4 linked regions of the Homo sapiens genome follow. The protein of the gene in region 3 purifies or fractionates together with the protein of the main gene of each other region. This does not show direct contact. Each region holds a gene or a part of one and is shown on either strand. Other genes may lie near its edges.

The links. Proteins that work in one complex are often made in the same cells at the same time.
Region 1: the proteins of SRGN (region 3) and BTBD8 purify together in Homo sapiens (affinity purification with mass spectrometry, with the first as the bait; one study listed by BioGRID). This does not show direct contact.
Region 2: the proteins of SRGN (region 3) and MRPL3 purify together in Homo sapiens (affinity purification with mass spectrometry, with the first as the bait; one study listed by BioGRID). This does not show direct contact.
Region 4: the proteins of SRGN (region 3) and AOC1 purify together in Homo sapiens (affinity purification with mass spectrometry, with the first as the bait; one study listed by BioGRID). This does not show direct contact.

The regions. Positions count from the first base shown.
Region 1 is NC_000001.11:92,167,177-92,170,846, reverse strand, and holds part of BTBD8 (BTB/POZ domain-containing protein 8), read right to left. Parts: intron 3,000-3,670; coding exon 2,862-2,999; coding exon of another isoform or gene 2,853-2,861; intron 1,982-2,852; coding exon 1,852-1,981; intron 1-1,851. UniProt on the Homo sapiens protein: Involved in clathrin-mediated endocytosis at the synapse. Plays a role in neuronal development and in synaptic vesicle recycling in mature neurons, a process required for normal synaptic transmission.
Region 2 is NC_000003.12:131,468,470-131,472,139, reverse strand, and holds part of MRPL3 (large ribosomal subunit protein uL3m), read left to right. Parts: intron 1-860; coding exon 861-969; intron 970-2,366; coding exon 2,367-2,444; intron 2,445-3,670.
Region 3 is NC_000010.11:69,086,894-69,090,902, reverse strand, and holds the start of SRGN (serglycin isoform 1 precursor), read right to left. Parts: upstream 2,801-4,009; 5' UTR 2,746-2,800; coding exon 2,667-2,745; intron 1-2,666. UniProt on the Homo sapiens protein: Plays a role in formation of mast cell secretory granules and mediates storage of various compounds in secretory vesicles. Required for storage of some proteases in both connective tissue and mucosal mast cells and for storage of granzyme B in T-lymphocytes.
Region 4 is NC_000007.14:150,855,349-150,858,762, forward strand, and holds part of AOC1 (diamine oxidase [copper-containing] isoform 2 precursor), read left to right. Parts: intron 1-1,106; 5' UTR 1,107-1,122; coding exon 1,123-2,692; intron 2,693-3,414. UniProt on the Homo sapiens protein: Catalyzes the oxidative deamination of primary amines to the corresponding aldehydes with the concomitant production of hydrogen peroxide and ammonia.

The sequences.
Region 1 (3,670 bases), on a different chromosome or scaffold from region 3:
AATAAAAATTCATTTTATAAGTTAGGTTTATATGGGAATTTATTGCAGAACTCATGTCTATGCTCTTCAAATAAGAATTTGAATGTCAGGAAAATATGTAGGCTGGAATAATTATATGAGAGCTACAAATATAGTTTAGCAAATGTATTTCTTTTGAAGGTTACTGGGATTTAAGACATATTTTGAAGAAATATATACAATCTCTGAAAATTATTTGATTTTTATTAAATCAGCTAATAAAAAATACATTAAATTATCTGTAACTACCATGCATCTTCCATGATCTCTATTCTATAGGATATGTGCTATAAGACAAAGCAGGATCCTGAAAATGGCACTATAGGACTGATTTGCAGTAAGCAAATGACTCTGCACAATAATACACAGGAAGAAATTAAACTAAAAAATTTCTCCCAAAGGTCAGTAACTCAACTATGACATACGAAATGTAGTAACAGACAACCCAGAACCATTCCTTTATCTGGGTTTCCCAATGAAGTAATTATGCATAAGTCAGAACTCATTATAATTCAACTTATTTAAGATTAAAACATTATTATTACACTGATATAATGTAACAGAACGAAAAGTCCTTTTTGACAATTCAAAAAGGATTGTTGGATTAGCTGGATAGTTGGATTACCAATAACATTTTATTTAAATATGGGTATTTACATGTATTTTTAATTAGCACTTTGAAGAATTAAAGAACACAGAAGCTCAACTTAACTATGAAATCCTCTAAAATAGAGAAAACCAAAGTTTGCTACTAATCGGAAGAGAGCTGAAGACACCTACTGAAGGAATGCTGATCTTATCTTGTTACTTTACATTACATAAATTTTGTAAAAATAAACCATCATTTAAAAATCAGCACAGAAATAGTCACAAGGAAAAAAATGTCCAATTTCTAAGAGATTCTTCTCATAATTTTTGTTTAAAATAATGGAATTTCTTTGAAAAGTGCTCTTCATATCACATCTAGCTACACTATCATGTAATGCTTATAATGTAAAAGCAGATCCTATTCTGATGATACCACTAAAGAATTTAAATATTTATGCATTCTCAAAATATATTTTAACAGACATGGCTTCCATGTTTACAGTACTAAAATGTTTGCTTCATAAAATTCAGTCTCTTAAAATGTTTTAAAAAGTATACACACTGAATATGCCAATATTTTATCTAAGGCACCTGCTTTAACCCAAAAATAGTCATGAAGACATTTTCAGTTCCACACCCTCAAATTTTTATTTTGATATTTTTTTTAAACACATGTTCTGAGCAATATACATCTTTTGTTTAATGCTAATGTTTCAGATGATACCTATTAAATGTCACAGACCACTGTGCAGCTCCTGAGGGACAGTCCGCAATAGCACACTCCACATCATTGAACCAATCAGTTGTGAAATAAAGCCATCTATTCCAGGCAAAACCACAAGAAAGGGTGTCTTATGAAAAAGATGGAAAAGCTTTATGACAAAACATATTTAAAAAGGAGGAAAAAGTATGTTCGATACTCTGTTCTATGTGGGTTACATTTTCTTACACTTTTAATCTCTTCACAAGAATGCTTGTAAGCAAATTTGCCTAGAACATTGTTGCTAATGTATAGTAAGATTAGAAACATATATATATATAAAGGAAATGAGTTTCATTTTCTAAGAACAGCTAAAAAGCATGATTTATTAAAACTGCCTAAACATATGAGCACCAGTTTCAGTTATCCTATTATCCAACAGAAGCACACAAATGTTAACCTTTTCACTTATCAGAATGCCCTCAAAATATCTGCTGTCACAATGATCATTACATAAGAATTGAAATATCTCAAGGCTAACGTACCTGCTTGGATTTTCTGTTGATCATCTGTGCTCATCAGCTTCCAGCTTTCTGTGTGACGAACAGCATAGAAAGACTGAACCAGGAAGATCCACAGCTTATCACGCAGAGCCTGGATCTTGCACGTAAAACCCTGTGTTCAAGCAACAAATCAGCAGCTGGTGAGAGCCACATTGTCATAGCAACCAGTCATTATTCCTTTCAGAATCTACTTACTCCTAAGCTAGATCAATGATGTCATCATTTAGATTTTTAAGATCGTTGGGTACATGTTATTTATGAAGACTTATTAATAACAAAATTTTATAAATGAACACAAAGCTAAAAAATCTCATCTTTTCAACCAAATGTTATTTTAAAACACCAATGCCCTTGATATGAACACCTTCCACAGCCTTTTCATATCAACTATGACATTACAAGGTCAAATGCTCTATGGAATAGTAATAAATATGATACATTTTAAAAACCATTCTTGTCGAACAAATACAGAATGCCAATAATTTGTAATTACCTAATTAATGGCCACTGATTAATTGTATTTAAAAATAAATATTTTAATTTTGCTTCCCAGCCTAATTTTAAAATATGATTTTTTGAAGAGAAAAATTAAGATTATAAAAATAAAAGACACTGATGATTAAAAACTCTAAAATATACATTTATATCTAAAATATACATTTTATATCTAGAAAATTTACTGTAGGACCAGGGAGAAATACGAGAGTTATGCTGTGCCAAATAATGTTGCTAAATATCACACTAAATTTAAAATTACCCAGCCAAACTGCCAATTTCTAAACTTTTATAAGAAGTCCATTTGGAGACAAACGGAATTTTTAAAATTTAGTATTATAAAAAATTCCAAACATATACAAAAGTAGAGACCTTAATCCACCCCTAGGTATCCACTGCCTAGCTTCAATGACCCTGCAACATTTAAAATGCACATACATCTAAAAATCTTAGTTCAAATATTGCATTATTTTAATAAATTTCATTACATTCAGTACCATTTCCTTTGTACTGTCAGAGTTCAGCAGTGTGTCCAGAGCCATAAGAAGAGAGCAGCTATTTTCAGTGGTGATATTTTCTTCAATTGCTTTTAAAATTGTGTCCAACAGATCGGCTGTGCTGCTCATTGCTTGTGACTATAAAACACAGAAATTAATATTTAAGAGGAATACATATAAAATGCACAAGAAATGTGAAAGTCTGGCGTAACAGATCATTATAACTAGCTGTATGAAGTCAACCAGAAATCGTATTTTTTCCCTTTGTTAAAAAATTCGCATATATGCATATGCACGCAGCTTTTATTTTTATTTATTTATTTTTATTATACTTTAAGTTCTAGGGTGCATATGCACAACGTGCAGGTTTGTTACATATGTATACATGTGCCATGTTGGACACACAGTTTTTAAAAGCCAACATAGCCCTAAATACAGAACCTAGAAATAAACAATAGGAGTTATTCTGTGAATAATTTTAGAGAAAGTAGCTTCCCAATAAGACAGAGAATTCTGCATGGATCATAATTGTATTACTGGCCAAAACAGTACCTTTATGACTTTGGTTTCTAAAATGTGGCTTGCTGAGGGAGGGCTAGAGTTGGCCAGAATTACACTGTGCCTTGCCAGGGCACTCAAACCTGTCCCTCTCGCCTTTCTCATCTTGTGAGCCAAATATCCTGTCCATCACTGCCTTAAATCCTATGTAAACATGCCATCTGCTATGGAGTTTATTTAAATCACATTAATTTAATCAAAAGCAACCTGCATTTAAAAGCTCTTACATAATTGAAATCAGAACACAAAGA
Region 2 (3,670 bases), on a different chromosome or scaffold from region 3:
ATCCTAAAACTTAATAGCTTAAAATAACAAACATTTATTACCTCAGTTTCTGTGCTCAGAAATCCCATTGTAACTTACCTGGATGCCTCTGACTTGGGGTCTCTCCCAAAGCTGCAGTCAAGCATCAGCCAGGGCTGTAGTCATGTCAAGGTTCTAATTGGGGAGAATCTGCCTCCATACCTACTAATAGTCCATTGGCAGACCTCAGGTCCTTCGTTAATAGCTGGAGACATCCTTGCAGCATGTCTCTCCATAGGACAGTTTACACTAGCTGTGGAAGTTGGCTTCCTTCAGAGCCTGGCAAGCAAGAGAGTACCAAGATGGAAGCTACAGTCTCTTTGTAACCAAATCTCAGAAGTGACATCTCATCACTCTTGCCATATTTTATTTATTAGAAGCAAGGGACTAGGTTCACCCAGACTCAAGGGGAGGGAATTAAACAGGAGCATGAGTACCAGGAGGTGGTGATCTTTGGGTTCCATCTTAATGGCTGCTTGCCATATCTGCTATAAGTACTTTGAAACTTCTAGAGCTTTTCCATTTTTACTGTGTCATCTTCACAGAATTAGGATGATAAAACTCCTGTTCAGATAAAATTCCCTGTGCTTAGCTTGCTGGTGTCTCACAATCTTGAATTAATCATTTTATATAGAATTAGACTCCAGGAAGGGGTGCAGACCAAGACAGAGATAAAGGAATATTTATTTGCAGTTTTAGTTGTATAGCCTTTTCTAGTTATTTAAATAAGAAGCTTTGTTAAAACTCTAACAAGAATGTGTACAGTTGGTACTAGAAAGTGTACAATTGGGAATGGTCTATGCTCTTTTCATTATGTAAATTCTAACGTTTGTTTTGTTCAGTATTGGTAAAGGTTTTCAAGGTGTCATGAAAAGATGGGGATTTAAAGGCCAGCCTGCTACGCATGGTCAAACGAAAACCCACAGGAGACCTGGAGCTGTTGCAACTGGTGTGAGTATAACTAGTGAAGCTCTTTTTAATGCTAAATATTCAACTTCTGCACATGTAGTCCTCAGTCCGTCCTTGATATGAAGTCACATAATTTTAGTCTGACACAAGGGGACTCCATGTACTTGTCACCCTTTTATGGATCCTTGCCCCTCACTCATTTCCCAGAGCCAGACTAGAATTAGTTATATTCCACAAGGTTAGCTGAGCATCTGTAGTTTGGCTGTATATACCCTGAGTCTAAATTTAAAATGTACTTTGTGCAAATGTTGAATTCAGTTTGTCTTTTGAATTAGTATCAGTTAACAATTCTGAAATAATTTTCTGTGAATTGTAGGATTGAGTAGATAAGTAAATGTATTGATAATGGAGCTAGGTTTCTCACTGTTGGAAAAGGGCGTTAAAGTATGAAAATGGGAAAATTAAAATGAACCCTATAGTGTTGAATTCAAACTATAAGTATGCATATACTGTTTGGTGGGGGAGGGGAATGCATGCATGCACACAAGGAAAAAATGTAGCACACAGAGAAACAGAGGGGTGTGTGTGTGTGTGTCTTAGTTCTGTCTACTGGAACATTGTAGTCATATATAACGGAATATATTTGTAGAATGAATAAGAGTGATACTTAGTCTGTAATACTCAGAATTGTCTTTTAAGCCTGTTGGTTACATATTAAACATATCTAATGCCATGATGAGGTACTTCCACTGAGAGTTTCACCTGTTAATGTGAGAGCAGCTGATGGAAAAGTGTTTATATTGTGAGAATTCATGTGTTATAAGAAGCTGTTCCATTTTAGTCATAATTCAGATTTGCTTCTTTAGATGTAGAACTATTACCCGTTATCAGAGCCAAAATCAGAGACTGTTAGATTTATGTAAATCAGAGAAAACCAGGGCTAGACAAACTAGTATTCTGATAACTAACTCTGTCCTTGAATAATTTTGGTCAAGGAAAGTAACATCTAAAGCAAGGAGCAGTAGGACCATTCCAGCACCAGTGGTATGGATGAAGTCCATTAAGTCAGTTAATACAGAAGATGAGTTCAAAACAGGCCTGGCAGTCCATTTTTTTTCTTTGAATGATGGTGTCGGTGTGTCTGTATGCCCTTGTCCTTTTTTAATTCTTAGCCAGTATTAGGTCCGTTGTTGCTGAGTTTTTCTCCTAAATCTGCTTCTTAGTCTGTATTTATTTTATCATTCTAGTCTCATTAGAAAGGAAATCCTCTAGGAGTAAATATGCCTAAATCCATATTTAGTTCCTTACTTGGGACCTAGCAGAATAGGGGAAAAATAAAACATTTTAATAATTTATATTTTTAGTTTACATTGTGGTTTGATCAGTGCTGTTTAAAATTGATAGTACTTAAAAGTGTTAACTTTAGTTTTCTCATTTAGGATATTGGCAGAGTCTGGCCTGGAACTAAAATGCCTGGAAAAATGGGAAACATATACAGGACAGAATATGGACTGAAAGTAAGTGTTACAAGTGGTTCTTTTTAGGAACAGCTAAATTGTCTAAATGCAAAGGCAGCAGAATATGTATTTAATCTGTGTCTGTACCATTGTTCTAAGAGGCTTTAAAATTATTGAGGAAAAGAGGATACATGAATTGTGTGTGTGTGTGTGTGTGTGTGTACACTCTAGTTGTAGTAATGGTGGTAGTAATGATAGGGTATATTTCAGGCCATGAAAAGTGCAGTCATTAAAGAGACAAAATTAGTAGTCCACTCTTGGACCTGGAAGATTTTTACAAGATATTGTTGCATGAAAAAAGTAAGATTCAGAGCATTCAGTATAATACTCTTTATTGAGTAAAAGATTTAACAAAAGCTCTCTACGTGTGTATGTTGCTGTGCCATCATATAATCACAGAAGAGTGGAAGGGTATATACCAGGTTCTTGGATTATATATCAAATGTGTGTGTGTGTGTGTGCGTGTGTGTGTGTAAGTGTAAGGAGGAGAGTGGGAGGCAATCAAAATAGGAGGAAACAATAGCACTACAAAAGGATTATGATATACATCCGTTTTTATAAAAAATGTCTGTGTATATTTAAAAGAGAAGTTGAATTCAATCTCTACCAATGAGAAATGTACCTAAGTAAAACTGAGTTATACTATAATGGATGCTGTATAATTATATTTCTGTTAAACAACTAATGTTTATATTTGTTTGCATGTATGTTTTAAAGTGTAGGAAGTACAAAGAAGAAAATAAGCCACCAATAAGAACAATACCCAAAGACAATCACTGGAAACATTTTGGTGCATATCCTCCCAGTCTCTATTCTGCATACCTTTTATATATAAATTTTGACCAGGAGAAGTTTTCAAATTTTATATAATTAAACCTAAGATTTTTTTTACCCCTTCTATTACATTTATACTTATCAGAGACCATCTATTTGCTGTATTTTCTTCGTGTGTGTGATTTCAATTTTTGTAATATTTAATACTTATTCATTATTAGATAGGAGCCATGGGTCAAACTTGATTCCTTATCCAAATATTTTATTTTCTCAGTACCATTTTTTGACCAATCATTCTCTCCCATTTATGTACGTTTTTTCTCCACATGAAGATTTTTTGAGGACCATCTACTCAGCCCACTTACTTTAGAAATTAGAATCAGTGAGGTTGTGGCTTCTCCAGCCTCTAGTTACAGCAAGCTAGTATTAACTAAAAATAAAATAAAATTGAA
Region 3 (4,009 bases):
GCAATAAAAGTGGAAGATTCACAGGCCTCATCAAATCCCCTGGAGCCCTACATTAAATAGATTAGTCATCTGTGCTCTCCAGAGTTACACATCCCCAAATTTCCATTTCTTTGTGCTTGGTAAACACAATCTTACCCCACATCTTTACTTGGGTTTGACTTATAATAAAAATATACCACCACCAAATTCATATGTTCCAGTTCTAACCCACAGAATCTCACAATGTGAAATTGTTCAGAAATAGGGTCATTGCAGATATAGGTAGTTAAGATGAGGCCATTAGGGTGGCCCTGATCCAATGCCTGGTGACCCTCTAAGAAGATGGTATTAAGACACGGATGCATGGAGGAAAGGCCATGTGCAGACAAGGGAGAAGGCGCCATCTATAAGCCAAGGAGAGAGGCCTCAGAATGCGATCGACCCTGCCAGCACCTTGATCTTGGACTCCCATCTCCAGAACTGTGAGGAAATACATTTCTGTTATTTAAGCCACTCAGTCCGTGGTACTTTGTTATGGCAACCCGAGCAAACCACTATAGTGACCTGAAATGGTTTTGAATATGCTCAGTAAAAGCAAGCCAAAAGCCTAGTTGATTTCATCTGCCAAACCAACGGGCTAGATAAACACTTTTTATAAGACAGGAAGAATGTTGTCGAATCATATCTGGCATTGCGTGGAGGTGTGAGGAAATGGTGTCACGACTCTTCACATCACAGCCTTGTGCCGCAGTCACTCACATGTGCAGCCAGTGGGGGACATCTATTTCCCTGCATGCTCAGATGTGGGCACAAGCCCTTGAGCCCGATACTGAGAGCCTTTTTTCGGAAACACCCTAGTTTGTCAGTTTCTCCCTTGTCTCTTTCTATGGTTTCCTTTTCTAACAAAGAGCTAAACCTACGAGGTCATGACATAAATGCTAGTATTCTATACAATTTCATGATGAATTATTTTCTTTCCTTCTCTTTCTTTCTTTCCTTTCTTTCTCTCTCTCTCTCTTTCTTTCTTTCTGACAGAGTCTTGCACTGTCACCTAGGCTGTAGTACAGTGGTGCAATCTCAGCTCACTGCAACCTCCACCTCCCAGGTTCAAGCAATTCTCCTGCCTCAGCCTCCTGAGTAGCTGGGATGACAGGTGTGTGCCACCATGCCCGGCTAATTTTTTTGTATTTTTGGTAGAGACGGGATTTCACTATGTTGGCCAGGCTGGTCTCAAACTCCTGACCTCATGATCTGCCTACCTTGGCCTCTCAAAGTGCTGGGATTACAGGCGTGAGCCACCATGCCCGGCCTTCTTCATTTCTTTCTAATGAATATTATACAAGGAACGTTTTTGTTTTCATTCTAGTTTTCCTTAATGAATCTTAGTGGGAAATTCATGTTTCTGGGAAATTTTGACAACATAAAGACTTACATATCTCTGGTTGGGGTATGCCCAGCACCATCTGGCCATTCAAGACTGTACTAAAGTATGGGCCTCATTACTCTCGATCTTGTCAGACCACTTGGCTATTCGGGAATTATTTCATCAAGCTGAAGATATTCCCTAAAAGATCCCAGTGAAGCCTGTTCCCTACAATTGACAATGTTTTATATTTTAAAAATACATAAATTAATAACGTTCCAGAAACATTACTTGCTCTTTTTTCAGCATTAGCATAACTAGAAGAAAATGATTTTATAAATTTCCAACATAAAATGAATGTCTCTGCGATCATCTGTAAGATTTCATCTCCACCGGAAGTAAGATCATGACAACCAAAAGTCGCTTTGACGAAACAAATCTAGGACATGTGTGTCATTGTGACTCAACATTTCCCTTACCATTTGGCGGAACCTAGTGTTTTTCTACTATAGGTTCAGCCATCTCTCTATCAAGCCATGACCTCCGTCTTATTTAGACATGATTCCTTATTTGCCAAAGAATAACAAATTGTATTTTTCTTACAAGCCTATCATTTTCATTGTCTTAGTCATTACAGGTTTTAAGTTGTTTCAGTCTGACTAAACAACACTAAATGGTAGATAAACCTAGGAAGATATTTCCGAATATGATGCTTCTCTGAGCAAGAGCACAAATACCAAATTATTTGGCCTTCTCTTTAAAATCTGAGAGGTTTTACATGAACTATGTCTAACCATAATTGAGTTTTCAGTAAGAACCAAGTTTATCTTTAAAAAAAAAAAAAAGAAAAGAAAATACACACAGTCAGATTCACCCCAATTGGAATATAACGTCTCCCAGTGTTAAAATAACAATGACACCGTCACAGCGCACTAAAACTTGGGGCTGATGTAGACACTTAGGGGTAGGCAGACACCCCCCAACAGTCAAAGGTGCCATCTCCTCCATGCAACAGGCACAGGAGTCATTTTCTAGATTCCTTTTTTGAGCTTTTAAAATTTATAAACCTCACATTTTCATCCCAAAATAGCACATTTCAATCATTGTAAGAGTTTACAAGACTGCACACGCCACAGAGTTTAATTTTTCTTGGTACCAAACTTAACAGAACTCATATTAAAGGGTTCAGCGACCCCAAATCCTTCTTCTTTGCCTCCTTTCTCACAATATTATACATTCTATGCCTTAAAATGAATATAATGACTTGCATGGACCACAGGGCTTACAGAGAAGATGGCTGGGGAACAAGACTCCTGAGTCTTACCTTGAACTGAGGATTCCAGAACCAGGATGAGGGCAAGAGCCAGGACAAGCCGACTGCATTTGAGTAGCTTCTGCATCATGACCAACTTAGTCTAGCTCTCCCAGCTGCACGCCAACTTCTTGATTAGGAAATGTAGCAGGGTGCTCTCTGTCCCTTTTAGAAAATGTTCCAAAACCTCAAACCCTGCCCAGAACACACGTCACAATTTCCTGAACAAATAGAAAGACATCCACATCAAAACCCAGAAAGAAAGGGGGTGGGGGGAACACAGTAAAATAACTATTCATACCCATTATGAAACTGTACTGGACTCCCCCCAGGCCTGCTTTTTCAAAAGTTTTGTTGTTTGCCACTTGCCTGCAAGACATTTTTTTTTCCCACCGAAACAGTAGAATCAGCATTTGGGACAGTTTGTTTTTCCTTTCTTCAGGTAACAATCTAAACACTAGATTGCTAATATTAAGAATCTGCTGCATTTTTTATGAGATAAGGGATCTAGGTGCTGCCTTTTCGTCACCAAGCACTTTCAACATAAAACATTCTCTTCATTTTCTTTTTCACCGGGGAGTAACATACCTCACTGAGCCAAGCTCGTGAAGTGAAACTTCAAAGCTGAGCTCTAACCTTCAAGAATGAGTTGTCGGATTTCAGATGAACAGTTTCTTCTTCTTCTTTTTCTTCTTTTTTTTTTTTTTTTTTTTTTTTTTGAGATGGAGTCTCACTCTGTCACCCAGGCTGGAGAGCAGTGGCGCGATCTCAGCTCACTGCAACCTCCATCTCCAGGGTTCAAGCAATTCTCCTGCCTCAGCCTCCTGAGTAGCTGGGATTACAGGCGTACACCACTGCGCTGGACTAATTTTGTATTTTTAGTAGAGACGACGTGTCACCATGTTGGCCAGGCTGGCCTCAAACTCCCAACCTCAGGCCATCCGCCTGCCTCAGCCTCCCAAAGTGCTGGGATTACAGGCGTGAGCCACCGTGCCCAGCAAACAGTTTCTTCTTAAACTCAGTTTCTTGCATTGGATCATTGGCTCTCTCTCTATCTCAAGAACATAGGATTTTCAGTTACAAAGACTGTGGTAAAACAGAAAAACTATTTTGCATTCCCCTCTCCTTCACATTGAGCATTTCTTAAGATGGATTCCATTTCTATTTTTATCTGTTCTCCTAGTCAAAATTTTCAACTCGAGTTTTGGGTCCTCTGGCCTTGAATAAGCCAGAAATCAGGAACGAGGGAGAGGTTGTCCTCACAGTGAGCTGCTGGACCTCAGCAAACAACACAAACCTCTGCCTCATGTAAATAAAGGAACAGCATTTTCCCTGGGCATGGTGCAGATTTCTGG
Region 4 (3,414 bases), on a different chromosome or scaffold from region 3:
GCGCAACAGGCAAGAGTAACAGTCTCCCAGAGACTCCGCACACAGCACATGGGAAGACAGAGCTGTGGCCACCACGTCTCCCAGCCCTGCAGGAGGCTCACAGCTACAAGCACAGGATTTTACAGCTGCTTGGGGAATGGGGTTATGAGGTGAAGACCCTGACCCACCCTCCCTGAGAAAGGAAAAGGCATCTTCCTAAGATGAAACCCTCCCTGAGGTCCCCTCCTAGTAGCCTTGGGTGGACAAGAGAGGTGAATGGGGCACAAAGAAGGCTAGGCAGGACTGGGCACCTCTACCTCACCCCCAAAGCCATCAGTCTGCAGCCTAGTCACACCTGAATCACTCTACATTGCGTAAAACTTTAAATGGGCTGGTGTCGATAGCCTGTATTTAACAAGAAGAGCAGCTAACATTTCTCATGTATTTCCCATATGGCAGACATTGTTACAAACACTTTATATTTACTGTTTAATTGATTTCTCTCCACAACCCTAGGAGCTAAGCACTGTTGTCATTATTTTCATTTTAAAACTAAGAACATGAAGGCCCAGAGAGTTTAAGCAGCGTGCCCAAGGCCACACAGCAAGTCCTAGTGGCATGAGTCACTGGGACTTGACTCAGACAGCCTGACTCTAGAGCCTACCTTTGAATTTCTACACTAAATTTCAAAATCTGTCTACCTAAAAGGTATTTCGTTGTGTCAGAAATGTAGTTTTGCTGTTAATACAGGTGTCTTCTTCTCCAGGACACAAGAAGCACCTGGGGGCATGTGCAGGGGCCCAGCCTGGCCTCTGTGACTCACGGCACCCCTGGCTGAGATAATACACAAAAACAAGGGTGTTCCCCTGAGTAAGGAAGGCTGCAGGACTGAAGGACATTTACAGAGGAGTGAGGAGAGGGCAGAAATAAATGGATGGATGCACAGGCAGCGGCCCGACGGCGCTGGGGACTATGCATGGGGCCCCAGCTGCCCCAGGACAGCCTCCAGCTTGGGGCAGGGCAAGGGGAGGAAGCTCAGTCCATGGGAAAATTCCATGGCCCTAACCTGAGGGAAGCCCATCTCTGCCCATAAGACAACTAAGTTCATCTCCTCTATTGCATTCCAGAGCCGTGGAGCGAGAGATGCCGGCCCTGGGCTGGGCCGTGGCTGCCATCCTGATGCTGCAGACGGCCATGGCGGAGCCCTCCCCGGGGACTCTGCCCAGGAAGGCAGGGGTGTTTTCAGACCTAAGCAACCAAGAGCTGAAGGCAGTGCACAGCTTCCTCTGGTCCAAGAAGGAGCTGAGGCTGCAGCCCTCCAGTACCACCACCATGGCCAAGAACACCGTGTTTCTCATCGAGATGCTGCTGCCCAAGAAGTACCATGTGCTGAGGTTTCTGGATAAAGGTGAAAGGCATCCTGTGCGGGAAGCCCGTGCCGTCATCTTCTTTGGTGACCAGGAGCATCCCAATGTCACCGAGTTTGCTGTGGGGCCCCTGCCAGGGCCCTGCTACATGCGAGCACTGTCCCCCAGGCCTGGGTACCAGTCCTCCTGGGCATCGAGGCCCATCTCCACAGCAGAGTATGCCCTCCTCTACCACACCCTGCAGGAAGCCACCAAGCCCCTGCATCAGTTCTTCCTCAATACCACAGGCTTCTCATTCCAAGACTGCCATGACAGATGCCTGGCCTTCACCGATGTGGCCCCCCGGGGTGTGGCTTCTGGCCAGCGCCGCAGTTGGCTTATCATACAGCGCTATGTAGAAGGCTACTTTCTGCACCCCACTGGGCTGGAGCTCCTCGTGGATCATGGGAGCACAGATGCTGGGCACTGGGCCGTGGAGCAGGTGTGGTACAACGGGAAGTTCTATGGGAGCCCAGAGGAACTGGCTCGGAAGTATGCAGATGGAGAGGTGGACGTGGTGGTCCTGGAGGACCCGCTGCCTGGGGGCAAGGGGCATGACAGCACAGAGGAGCCGCCCCTCTTCTCCTCCCACAAGCCCCGCGGGGACTTCCCCAGCCCCATCCATGTGAGCGGCCCCCGCTTGGTCCAGCCCCACGGCCCTCGCTTCAGGCTGGAGGGCAACGCTGTGCTCTACGGCGGCTGGAGCTTTGCCTTCCGGCTGCGCTCCTCCTCCGGGCTGCAGGTCCTGAACGTGCACTTCGGCGGAGAGCGCATTGCCTATGAGGTCAGCGTGCAAGAGGCAGTGGCGCTGTATGGAGGACACACACCTGCAGGCATGCAGACCAAGTACCTCGATGTCGGCTGGGGCCTGGGCAGCGTCACTCATGAGTTAGCCCCCGGCATCGACTGCCCGGAGACCGCCACCTTCCTGGACACTTTCCACTACTATGATGCCGATGACCCGGTCCATTATCCCCGAGCCCTCTGCCTCTTTGAAATGCCCACAGGGGTGCCCCTTCGGCGGCACTTTAATTCCAACTTTAAAGGTGGCTTCAACTTCTATGCGGGGCTGAAGGGCCAGGTGCTGGTGCTGCGGACAACTTCAACTGTCTACAATTATGATTACATTTGGGACTTTATCTTCTACCCCAACGGGGTGATGGAGGCCAAGATGCATGCCACTGGCTACGTCCACGCCACCTTCTACACCCCCGAGGGGCTGCGCCACGGCACTCGCCTGCACACCCACCTGATTGGCAACATACACACTCACTTGGTGCACTACCGCGTAGACCTGGATGTGGCAGGTAGGACTCAAAGCGAGACTCTCCCGTTCAAACATCTGCATCCAGCCAATAACTTAAACTCCCAGGAGACGGCACTATAACTCCCTGGTGGTGGAAAGTTAGGAGCATTTGCCAAGCCTGCTTCTGTAAAACCTAAAGCTAGAAATTTGTGTGTCCCTGAAAAATGGTGAAAGCGAACAGTGCCGAGGGTTGCCCTGGATGCAACAGTGTGGACCCTGTCCTGACCCTGGGGCTGTGCATGGGGCAAGGGAGGGGACGGTGCCTATGAGGGTAAGAAATGTCACTGTCTAGCGCTTTGAGATGGAGTGTAGTATTGTCTGGGAATATTCAGGGTGTCTCCTGGATGATATCACCATAAAAGAATGGCATGGGTAGAATAACTAATGCTGCCAGACCCAACAAGGCCACCAGGACCACACGGGCGGCTCCTACCCCTCAGCCCCAGTCACCTCTCTGGACAGAGCCTCCCATGCCTGGAGAAAAATGGGTGCCCCTGCTCTAGGATTGCAGCCACAGCAGATGGGCATGAGCACAGCTCTTGAGAGGAACTTCCCAGAGTGGTAATGGAATCACCACAGCCGCCCAGGGCATCCCCCAACATCCCGGTTATTCAAGACAGTTGGCTGTTGGATGTGGTGGAGGATGGAGATCCTGGGGTAGAATGAGGAGGTTTCAGTTCTGGCAGCTTGATTCTCGTTCTCCTTCTCCCTGCATACCTCCAG